Linked DNA regions of Homo sapiens: region 1 is linked to region 2. The links come from fine-mapping of genetic effects on gene expression. Tissue or cell type: whole blood. Region 2 holds a variant in brackets; the other region holds the start of a gene. All regions are shown on one strand. Distances are from middle to middle. Region 1 holds the start of GBA1 (glucosylceramidase beta 1). Region 2 holds the start of ARHGEF2 (Rho/Rac guanine nucleotide exchange factor 2).

Region 1 (5,000 bases), 740 kb before region 2:
ACAAGCAGACCTACCCTACAGTTTCTCAACCCCCAGACATCAGGGCCCTCAGGGCCTGAAAAAGCTAGAATGCCTACCTTGAGCTTGGTATCTTCCTCTGGGAGGCTGAAGTTGTGCAACTGGAAATCATCAGGGGTGTCTGCATAGGTGTAGGTGCGGATGGAGAAGTCACAGCTGGCCATGGGTACCCGGATGATGTTATATCCGATTCCTACAGAAAAGGATGATCAAGATATGGTAGTCCGAGTCAATAGGAGAGTATGGGACTCTGCTTATCACTTGCCAGTCCTAATAGTGTCTGAGTCAGGGCCAAAGGGAACTTGGGCTCCTGGGTTGGAACCTGTGGAGGCTGGCACCTGGGTGAAGCGCAGGCCTTTCTGAGCCTGAGTCCGTAGCAGTTAGCAGATGATAGGCGGTGAAATCTTATTTCACAGGGCATTAAAACAGGAACCAAATGTCAGGGATGGGCAGAAGTCAGGGTCCAAAGAAAGGGCAAAGAAAAGTGTCAGTGGCTCACGCATGTAATCCCAGCACTTTGGGAGGCCGATGTGGGCAGATCACGAGGTCAGGAGTTCGCAATCATCCTGGCCAACATAGTGAAACCCTGTCTCTACTAAAAATACAAAAAATTAGCCGGGCGTGGTGGCAGGCACCTGTAATCCCAGGTACTCGAGAGGCTGAGACAGGAGAATCACCTGAACCCGGGAGGTGGAGGTTGCAGTGAGCTGAGATTGTGCCACTGCACTCCAGCCTGGGTGACAGTGCGAGACTCTGTCTCAAAAAAAAAAAAAGAAAAAAGAAAAGTGTCTGCTGGGCTCGGTGGCTCACACTTGTAATTCCAGCACTTCGGGAGGCCAAGGCAGGTATATCATTTGAGGTCAGGAGTTTAAGACTAGCCTGGTCAACATGATGAAACCCTGTCTCTACTAAAAATACAAAAATTAGCCAGGTGGTAGTGGCGCACGCCTATAATTCCAGCTACTCAGGAGGCTGAGGCAGGAGAATCACTATAGCCTGGGAGGCAGAGGTTGCTGTGAGGGGAGATCACACCACTGCACTCCTGTCTCGCCGACAGAATGGGCAGAGTGAGATTCTGCCTCAAAAAAATTTTAAAAAAAGAAAAGAAAAACGAAAAGTTTCAATGGCTCTATGTCATCTTGTCCCCTTCCTCCTCACCTTCTTCAGAGAAGTACGATTTAAGTAGCAAATTTTGGGCAGGGGGTGACAGGGCAAGGATGTTGAGAGCAGCAGCATCTGTCATGGCCCCTCCAAATCCCTTCACTTTCTGGAACTTCTGTTCTGGCTGCAGGGTCAGTAGCAGGCCTGAGGACATCCACAGGGAATAAGGGTATCAGTACCCAGCGGGAAACTCCATGGTGATCACTGACACCATTTACCTCTAGGAGGACCCAGCCTGGCCCAGGGGGTGAGGGGTGTAATGGTTACCTGTGCCCGTGTGATTAGCCTGGATGGGCCCCATACTCAGCTCCATCCGTCGCCCACTGCGTGTACTCTCATAGCGGCTGAAGGTACCAAGGGCAGGAAAGGTCGGGGGGTCAAAGGAGTCACAGTATGTGGCATTGCAGACACACACCACCGAGCTGTAGCCGAAGCTTTTAGGGATGCAGGGGCGGGCACCTGGGAGGGAGGGAGTACAAGCAGAGTGAGGTCTGATGAAGACATGGAGAATGGACACATCTGCTAGGAGAGACTGAACACGGTTTCAAAATTCCTCACCCCTTGGCCGGGCGCAGGGGCTCACACCTGTAATCCTAGCACTTTAGGAGGCCGAGGTGGGCGGATCACCTGAGGTGAGGAGTTTGAGACCTGCCTTGCCAGCATGGTGAAACCCCGTCTCTACTAAAAATACAAAAATTAGCTGGGCGTAGTGGTGGCCGCCTGTAATCCCAGCTACCTGGGAAGCTGAAGCAAGAGAATCGCTTGAATCTGGGAGGCAGAGGTTGGAATGAGCCAAAATTGCACCACTGCACTCCAGCCCAGGCAACAGAGTAAGACTCTGTTTCAAAAGAAAAAAAACAAAATCCTCACCCCAAAGTTGGTCTCAGTCACTCAAAAGGATTTATTGAGCACCTACTAAAAGTCTACCACCAGCTTACTGGAAGGCTACCAAAGGACTATGAGGCAGAAGGGAGGCTCTGTGCTACCTCCCCACTGCCTTGACTCACTCACCTGATGCCCACGACACTGCCTGAAGTAGAAGCAATCCTGTGAGGCTGCCAGCCATGATGCTTACCCTACTCAAAGGCTTGGGACATTCCTGAGGACAGAATGAGGAATGACTGAAAAGCAAGCCCCTCTCCACCCCTCAACTACTCTCCTGGGCAGGGCTTAGCTGCCTTTGGGTGCCCATGGCCCGGTCTCCCACATTCATTAGGACAAGGCCCACAGAAACCTGGGTGCAGCTCTCCCTGCAACCCTTCTGATGACAACTCTCTGCCCACCCCAAATCAGGATGCTCCCCACCACTCTTCCCACCCATTTCAACTTCGACCCCTCCCTCCATCTGTGCCTTGCTCAAAGAGCCATGATGGCCCTGGATTCAAAGAGAGTCTGTCATTCATTAAATTCCAGTGCCAGGATTCCAGAAGCACTGTGACAATGCTGATTGGGAGCTCTCTCTCTTACCTCTCTGGAAGGACTTGAAAACTCCATCCCCTCAGGGTCATTAGATGAAGAGAAGACCACAGGGGTTCCAGAGTCTCTGAAGGATAGAGGATCCACTAAACAAAAACAAGGATGCAGGTACCTGCCTTAGCTATAGGCACTAGGTTAGCCCTGCAAGTAATTCCGGCTTCCCGATGTGGATGGGTCATGTGATGACTAGGAGCGTCACATGACACAGGAAGTGAGGCAATCACAGCCATATTTCTAAAGGGCAATTGGCTTCCTCTCATCTGTTACAGATTATATGCCCTATAAAACTCTGGAGGGCATGTATGGGTGACAACTTTAGGAAGAGCCTAGAACACAGATTTGCATGGAGAATGGGGTAGAGGCTCCTAAATCCCAGAGGATGGGAACCACAGCAGGCACACTTCTTTTTTGATAGAAATGTCAAAAAGGTACAAATAAAGCTGATATAATTTAAAAAAAAAAACTTCACTGTGCAAAATACTGACACTACCAAGATGTTTAAGACAGTCTTTGCCCTATAGAGGTGTGTGAGGCATGGAAGTCAGACACACAGATATTTACAGATAAAGACAGAAACGGTAACAGGTGTGCATGGAGAGCTCTCTGAGATGAGGAGGGACCATTCGTGGGTGGGGAATTATCCAGGATGGCTTCACAGAGGAAAAAGTGAGGGGGGTTATTAGCCAGTGAAGTGCAGGGCACAAGAGGGTGGGACACTGGCAGTGGGATGACAGGACTGGAGGGAGGGAGTGGTCAGTGCGGCTCCTCTGCAGCGTCCCTTGTTTCATCATCAGATGCAGATGGTAATAACTGTTCTTCCTTCCTCACAAGACAGGGAGGTTTGTAAAGTCGTTCAAAAACCAAAGTGTTGTACAAAGCCATATCCTCAGTGGACACAAGGAGGAAGCTGTCCATGGTGTGGCCTCATGAACCACATCAAATGAGATTTAGCGGGAGTGGCACACACAGTCATGACCTGACTAATCCCAGCTCTCAGCCCATTTCCTTGCCTGGAAAATGGAGGCAATGCCACAACCTCAAAGGGTGGTTACTGCAGTCAGTGAGGTAAGTGCAGTGCCTGACCACTTGGTAGGCACCTGGGAACTACTTGTCTCTTGTTTGTATTTTTTGTTGTTGTTGTTTTTTGAGACAGAGTCTCACTCTGTTGCCCAGGCTGGAGTGCAGTGGCGTGATCTTGGCTCACTGCAACCTCCACCTCCTGGGTTCGAGTGATTCTCCTGCCTCAGCCTCCCAAGTAGCTGGGATTACAGGTGCCCTCCAACATGCTCAGCTAATTTTTTTATTTTTAGTAGAGATGGGGTTTCACTATGTTGGCCAGGCTGGTCTGAAACTCTGGACCTCAGGTGATCTGCTGCCTTGGTATCCGAAAGTGCTGGGATTACAGGCATGAGCCACTGCGCTGGACCCCAGCCATCCTTTTTGTTCTTTAAATGATCTCAGTGAAGTCTTTCTAGATACACTCCAAGCAAAATTGATCATTTCTTCTTCTAGGTTCCTCCAGTAATTTTTTTTTTTTTGGTTTTGAGACAGAGTCTTGCCCTGTTGCCCAGGCTGGAGTGCAGTGTGATCTCGGCTCAAGCAATTGCCCTGCCTCAGCCTCCTGAGTAGCTGGGATTACAGGAGCCCACCACCATGCCCAGCTAATTTTTGTATTTTTAGTAGAGATGGGGTTTCACCATGTTGGCCAGGCTGGTCTCGAACCCCTGACCTCAGGTGATCCACCAGCCTCAGCCTCCCAAGGTGTTGGGATTATAGCAATGAGCCACCACACCCGGTCCCTCCAGTAATTAAGTACAGTCTCAGTGAGACAGCAAGTTTGGAATCCTGGCTACACCATTTACTGGCTGTTTGACTTTCAATAAATCAATCACTCTAAGCCTCTGTTTCATCTATAAAAGGGGAGTGATAACTCCTACCTCACAGAATTGTTGTGAGGTTTGAGTGTGATAATGTGTCTCTAGTACACTGCTTGACACTAAACATTGCAACATGTCAGGCCTCTGTTCCTGGAGTTCCTTGAAGGAATGTCTTATGCATTCTAAGTATCCTCGTAGATAGCCTGGCACAGGGGTAGCTGTCAAGTTGTAGAATTGAACTAGTTGCTTCACTATGTCAGTAGCCACCCCTTCCAGACTTCTCACTTTTCAAGGAAACATTGCACAGGATTTGTTCTGGGTAGGGCAGGTAATATCTAGTACCTTACTTCCCTCAAGTTCATTCATCTCACAGATATTTCCTGAGCACATTCTACATTTGCCTCTCCTGCTCTATTGAGTTTAGAAGTCCAAACATCTCCTTCCACTTCCCCTCTGCATAGTGAGCCT
Region 2 (5,000 bases):
CCCCATCTAACCTCCTGCAAGTCACTCAGTGACTTCCCTAAGCTTTAGACTCCCTTCCCCTATCCTCACTTCTCCCCTCCCCCTCAACTCTCTCCCTAACCTCCACGACCCCTAGAATTTTTGTCTATGTCCCCAGAAGCCTCAGCCACCAGGAGGACCCCCCATTCTTCCACTCTCCTCCAACACCGTCAGCCCTCTCAGCTCCCTCCTGGGCTCCCCCAGCTCTCCTCTCCACTGCACTCCTAGTCCTGCACACAAAGCCAGCCACCTCTCCATTCCTCAGAACAAAGAAATAGTCGCTCTGCACACTCCCCACTCCACCTGCCCACCACAGAGATTCCAAGGGGACCCCCAGCCTCCACAGCCATCCCTGGACCTCTGGTCCCTGCTTGGCAGAAAAGGACCCTTTGTTCTAAGGGATATGATGGTTGGGGTTTGGGAAAGGAGAAAGGGAAGAACAGGGGACTAAAGAGAGAAAGGGGACCTGTGAGGTTTGGGGCTTGTGGAGGTAGGAAGTAGAGCAGAGAGAACAGAGGAGGTGGAGGACTGAAGACAGCCTGGGAGAACAGAAATGGAGTGAAAAGAAAAAGGAAGCATGGAGGGGGCTACACAGAGAGATCCTGTGAGGATGGGACAGAGAAAGGGGCAGGTTAAACTTACATTCCTCCTCCTAGGAGGAGCTCCCAGGGAATGAGGCAAGGAATGGGGAGGGGCTGAGGTGTCAGGGCTTAGCTGTGACCCATCCCCCCAAGGAGGTAGCAGGGGACACCATCTTCTTCAAATAATGTCTTTTCCAGCGGGTGCCCCTCTACTTCCCACCACAGTATAAAAAGAAAGGAGACAGCTGGTGTGCTGGGGGGAGGGGGAGAGGGGATCCAGGGTTTGTTGGCTAAGAACCAACTCCCCCTTCTGTAACCACAGTTTTCCGGAGGTGGCCCTCCCCTTCCGACCGGCCCAAACTGACAACCACCCTTCTCCGGTGGCCTCTTTGCCCTCTCAGATCCACCCACTCAGCCCCCGACTCCCTGCTGCCAGCCAGATTCCCAAATTACCTGCCCCACACAGCCAGCCCCCATAGTAGAAAGAAGAGCCAGTCCCCCCACCACCAAAAACAAAAACAAAAACAGAGCATGAACACCCAGATGTCTGACGTCCCAGCTCCCCACAATAATGGAAAAGGGATCCCAGTAGCTACCTGCCCCCACAGAACCGCTCTCTATACCCCCTAGCCAGGTCTTCCCCCAACCAGCTCCCCCATGGCTTTCCTTTTTAGGGTGGAACCAAATTTCTGCGGTTTCAAAAAACCTCCCCCGCCCCCCTTGGCTCTACTCCAGGGTCTCAGCTCAAACGGTTGAAAAAATAAACAGACTTTTGGAGCTGGGGCCTGGGCTGGCGCAGGCTGTGAAGAGCCTGTCTGCCACCCCACTGTTCCACCACACTTCAGCCACCTCACCCCGGCCCTCTGTTTGTCTTAGGCCCTACTCGAATCCCCAGTTGCTTTCCAGATAGCAAAATCTAATCCCAACCCCCTAAGGAAAGTCCTTTTAAAGCTGCTTTCCCTGGCCCTCCACCCCCAACCCAGGATGGAACCTCTGTCTCTCCCAGTTTAGCATCAAGACAGGTAGCCTGGCTAGGAACTACCAGGGAGGTGGAGGGGAGGGCTTTCCATCACCCTTAAGGACTCCTAAGGGGTACTGCTCCCTTGGCTGAAGTTGGTGATCAGCATAGGCTGGCACCAGGGTAGTAGGGCACTCAGGTTGGAGAGAAGCCAGAGATTAAACCAACTCTGGGCTGGGACCTGTCCTTTCTGATAATGGGTACAGTGCGGGGGCCCCAAAGGAGCTGGGAGGTGCTGTCTGCAGGCACCACCTTCCTTTCAGCTCTGACTTATTCACCTGCAAGTCAGCTTCATCATTTCCTGGGGTCTGGGTGTGGAAAGGTCAGGGCACTTGGGAATGGGGCTGGGTACAAAGGCAGGGATAAAGGGTACTTGGAGAGGAGTGGCCAAGAGGTCATGATGGGGGAGGCGTGTGGATAATTATACACCCAGACTCATGAAATGCTAGGTGAAGGGACCCCAAGACGAGCAGATAAGAGAATGAGAGCGCTGGGGGAGGAGGAGGAAGGGCAGGGAACACAATGCATAGTGCCAGGTGTGTCAGCCTAAGGGTTTCAGGTTGGGAGAAGGAAGAGCTAGGAGGCTGGCGGGGCAGATAGGGATGGAGGCCCTATGTTCCAGGCAGAAGGGCTCAGGATGGAGGAAAGGAGCCCAGCTACACAAAGACCTCTGCTCCCTTCACCTAGAGGTGATGGTTTGGGGGAAGTAAGCCGTCCCTCGGCCGTCCCGACCCCAGCCACCCGCCCACCCAGAGGGGAGAACTGAATCACAGCTGGAAAGTCCATTTGCGAGGAGAGGAGGAGCTGACTTTTGTCTTGGAGGGGTGGTGGTGGTGGTGGGAGGAAGCCGGGAAACCACCCC[C/G]TCCCGTCCCCTCCGCCGGATGGCGGGGACAAAGGGGGAACGACCAAGCCAGCGATTGGGGAGTGATGGGGGGTCGCCACGCCAAGCCCAAGCCGGTGGGGCCCGGGGTGAGAGGAGGTGCCGGAGCTTCCACCGCCCCCACCCGCGAGACACACACCTCCCTCTTCCCGCTCCGTCCCTTACCGGAGCAACTTTCTTTCAAGCGGCCTAAAGCACTCGGTCCCGCCGGCTTGGAGGCGACCAAGCCCAGGTCCGCTCCGCTCCCTCCCGGGATCCCAGCACCGTCGCGTCTGCCGCTCCCCCCACCCCTACCCACTCGCTCGCAGTCCCCACCCACCCCGTCCCGCCGCTCGCCGATCCACCGCTCCGCCCGATTTTGGCGCCCAGAAAGCAGGCGGGGAGACAGGAGATGCACCGCGGGTGCCGGGGTTCGGGGAGCACCCGAGGACCGCGGCGAAAGGAGAGGGGTTTCCGAGCCCACCTTGCTCGCCAGCTCTCTGCTCCGGTCGATCCGCGCCCGCGTGAGGGATTCGATCCGAGACATAATCGGACGGGGGGACCAGGGAGGACGCGGCGCGGACCCCGGCGTCCTGTATTGTTGGGGGAAGGCGGGGGGAGGGGTTCGGCCCGCACGCGTTGGTCTCGGGGACAGGAAGTCTGACTCCCCTCGCCCGGCACCCAGCACCAGTTCCTCAAACCCGAGTCTCCTCCCCCGCCCAAGCTCAGGAAGGGGGTAGGCGGAGCGGAGGGAGGGCGGGGTGCCCGCGCGCAGGACGGGACGCCAGGGTTTGTGTGGGGGCAGCTCGGAGAGGTACGAGGGTCCTAGGACAGGTTTGAGAGGCCCCTCTGCCTATTTCCCCTCCAGCGCCTGGGGGCGCCCTCTAGCCCCAGAGACCCGCCTCTTAGCTCTTCTTTTCCTAAAACCCAGCCCCGCAGCCCTCGCCGGACCCAGGTTGGCCCTTTCCCCTCTGCCCTCCCCTTCTTCCCTTCTCCCCTCGCCCTCCCTTTTTCCCTCCCCTACTGCGTTACCTCAGTCTTTAAAGACCCGCAGGCAGGAGAATTCCATCCGCCCCCAGCTCTTAGAAAACCCAGGACCAGTTCCTTCCTGGCCTTCGGGGTCCCATCAAAGCAGGCCTGAGCAGACTGACCCCTTTTACGATTGGGGGCAGGGGTGGCCAGAGGGAGAGGAAATCAAAGGAGAACTAAACGCTGGATCTTCAGTACACGGGAAGGGTAGGATTCACTCCCAGAGGTCGAAGAACAGAGAGGAGAGAATTCTCCCACATGCCCCACCCTTCTGGGGCCTTCCTGACCCCACTCTGCCCTCCTCCTAGCTCCGCCTCTGCCAGCTACTTTGGGGGACTAGGTTGGGATTCTCCACTTTTACCGAAGGCCTTCCATGTGTCTAACTGCAGTTCTCTCTGTTGCAAGTTAAGCCGGAACTGAAAGACCAGAAACCAGCCTGCCCTAGTCAAAGAAAGTTAGGGCCCAACCAGCCTCTCCCCAAGAAGCAGGGTAAGGTGGGGCATTCATCTCTCTGGACCCTTTTCCCCAGCCTGAGCCAGCCTTTGGGTGAGTTTCCTGCTATTGGGAAAATTCCTCCTCCAGTCTAACTATGATCACTTACAGTGAAGTTCATTTCTGCCTCTCAGGGTCTCCCATTTCTCTGGAGAAACCAGAAGCACAGAGAGGCCTGGGACAGAGCCTTCGGTTAGCAGGGTCCTGCCTGATTCTGGCCCCAAAGGGCGTGGGAGAAGAAGGGAGGGAGGGGAGACCCAACCCAGATCCAGCAGTTCTCTGCCCTGGCTCAGCAGTGGGGCCAGGCTGCAGGTTTCAAGCCCAACTCAGCACTCTTGTAGGTGCCAATTTTAGCCTCTGCCACTATTTTTGGGCTCCACTACCTCACCACTGGCTGAGCTGGTTGGGCTCCTCACCCCCAGCACTACCCCCACACTGCCCCTCCGGCTTCCCCTCCTTCCTAGCAACTCCTTCACCTCCTTCTTCACCCATTCCCCTGTTTAGAATCCTTAAATAGCAAAGACCAGGAAAAAGGAAGAGGAAATAAACCGTGCCCAGTTCAGGCTGGATGGACATTAGAAAGCAGGAAGGACTTCCCCAGGGCCACAGCTTGTTCTTCCTGGCTTGCACCTGCCAAGTATACCTACGGGGAGGGTGTAGGAACTCCCCCAAACCAAGAGGCCTGAGGCTCCTGGCCCCAGAACTCCAGACTCACCTCCCCTGAGGTGGGCAGCCAAGACTCAGGAATGTACTAAATTTAAAAACAGACAGCCAGAGGCTAGAATCTTGGCCTCAAGGTTCCACCCACTGGAGGCCCAGAGACAAGATCTGGGGTGGGACCTCAGCTTCTCTCCCAGGCCTGGGGCAGGAGGGTGCTGCAAGCTATGGATAGAATCTTAAAGGGCCACACTCCAGCCTGGGTACCCAGGAAACATAGAATTTGAACCCTGGGGTTTTTCAAGCGACCTCATGGTCCCTCAACTCAACTAAGAAGGTCTCTATG

What was found. PIP is the estimated chance that this variant, and not a neighbour inherited with it, causes the effect.
Region 1: it holds the start of GBA1, and the variant in region 2 is fine-mapped to the expression of GBA1 in whole blood (TOPMed, PIP 0.95).

Annotation. Positions count from the first base shown.
Region 1 is chr1:155,238,440-155,243,439 of GRCh38, forward strand. It overlaps GBA1 (glucosylceramidase beta 1), which reads right to left and starts at 2,810. Exons shown (of 11, transcript NM_000157.4): 1 at 2,647-2,810; 2 at 2,191-2,278; 3 at 1,447-1,638; 4 at 1,177-1,323; 5 at 78-211. The coding sequence starts at 2,673.
Region 2 is chr1:155,975,405-155,980,404 of GRCh38, forward strand. It overlaps ARHGEF2 (Rho/Rac guanine nucleotide exchange factor 2), which reads right to left and starts at 3,143. Exons shown (of 22, transcript NM_001162383.2): 1 at 2,961-3,143. The coding sequence starts at 3,023. It overlaps ARHGEF2-AS2 (ARHGEF2 antisense RNA 2), which reads left to right and starts at 3,235. Exons shown (of 3, transcript NR_183460.1): 1 at 3,235-3,290; 2 at 3,916-4,051. RefSeq lists enhancers at 518-777, 920-1,421, 1,538-1,617, 3,748-3,817, 4,279-4,900 and 1 more and silencers at 3,138-3,297, 3,358-3,407. The variant C/G (reference allele first, on the strand shown) is at 2,480.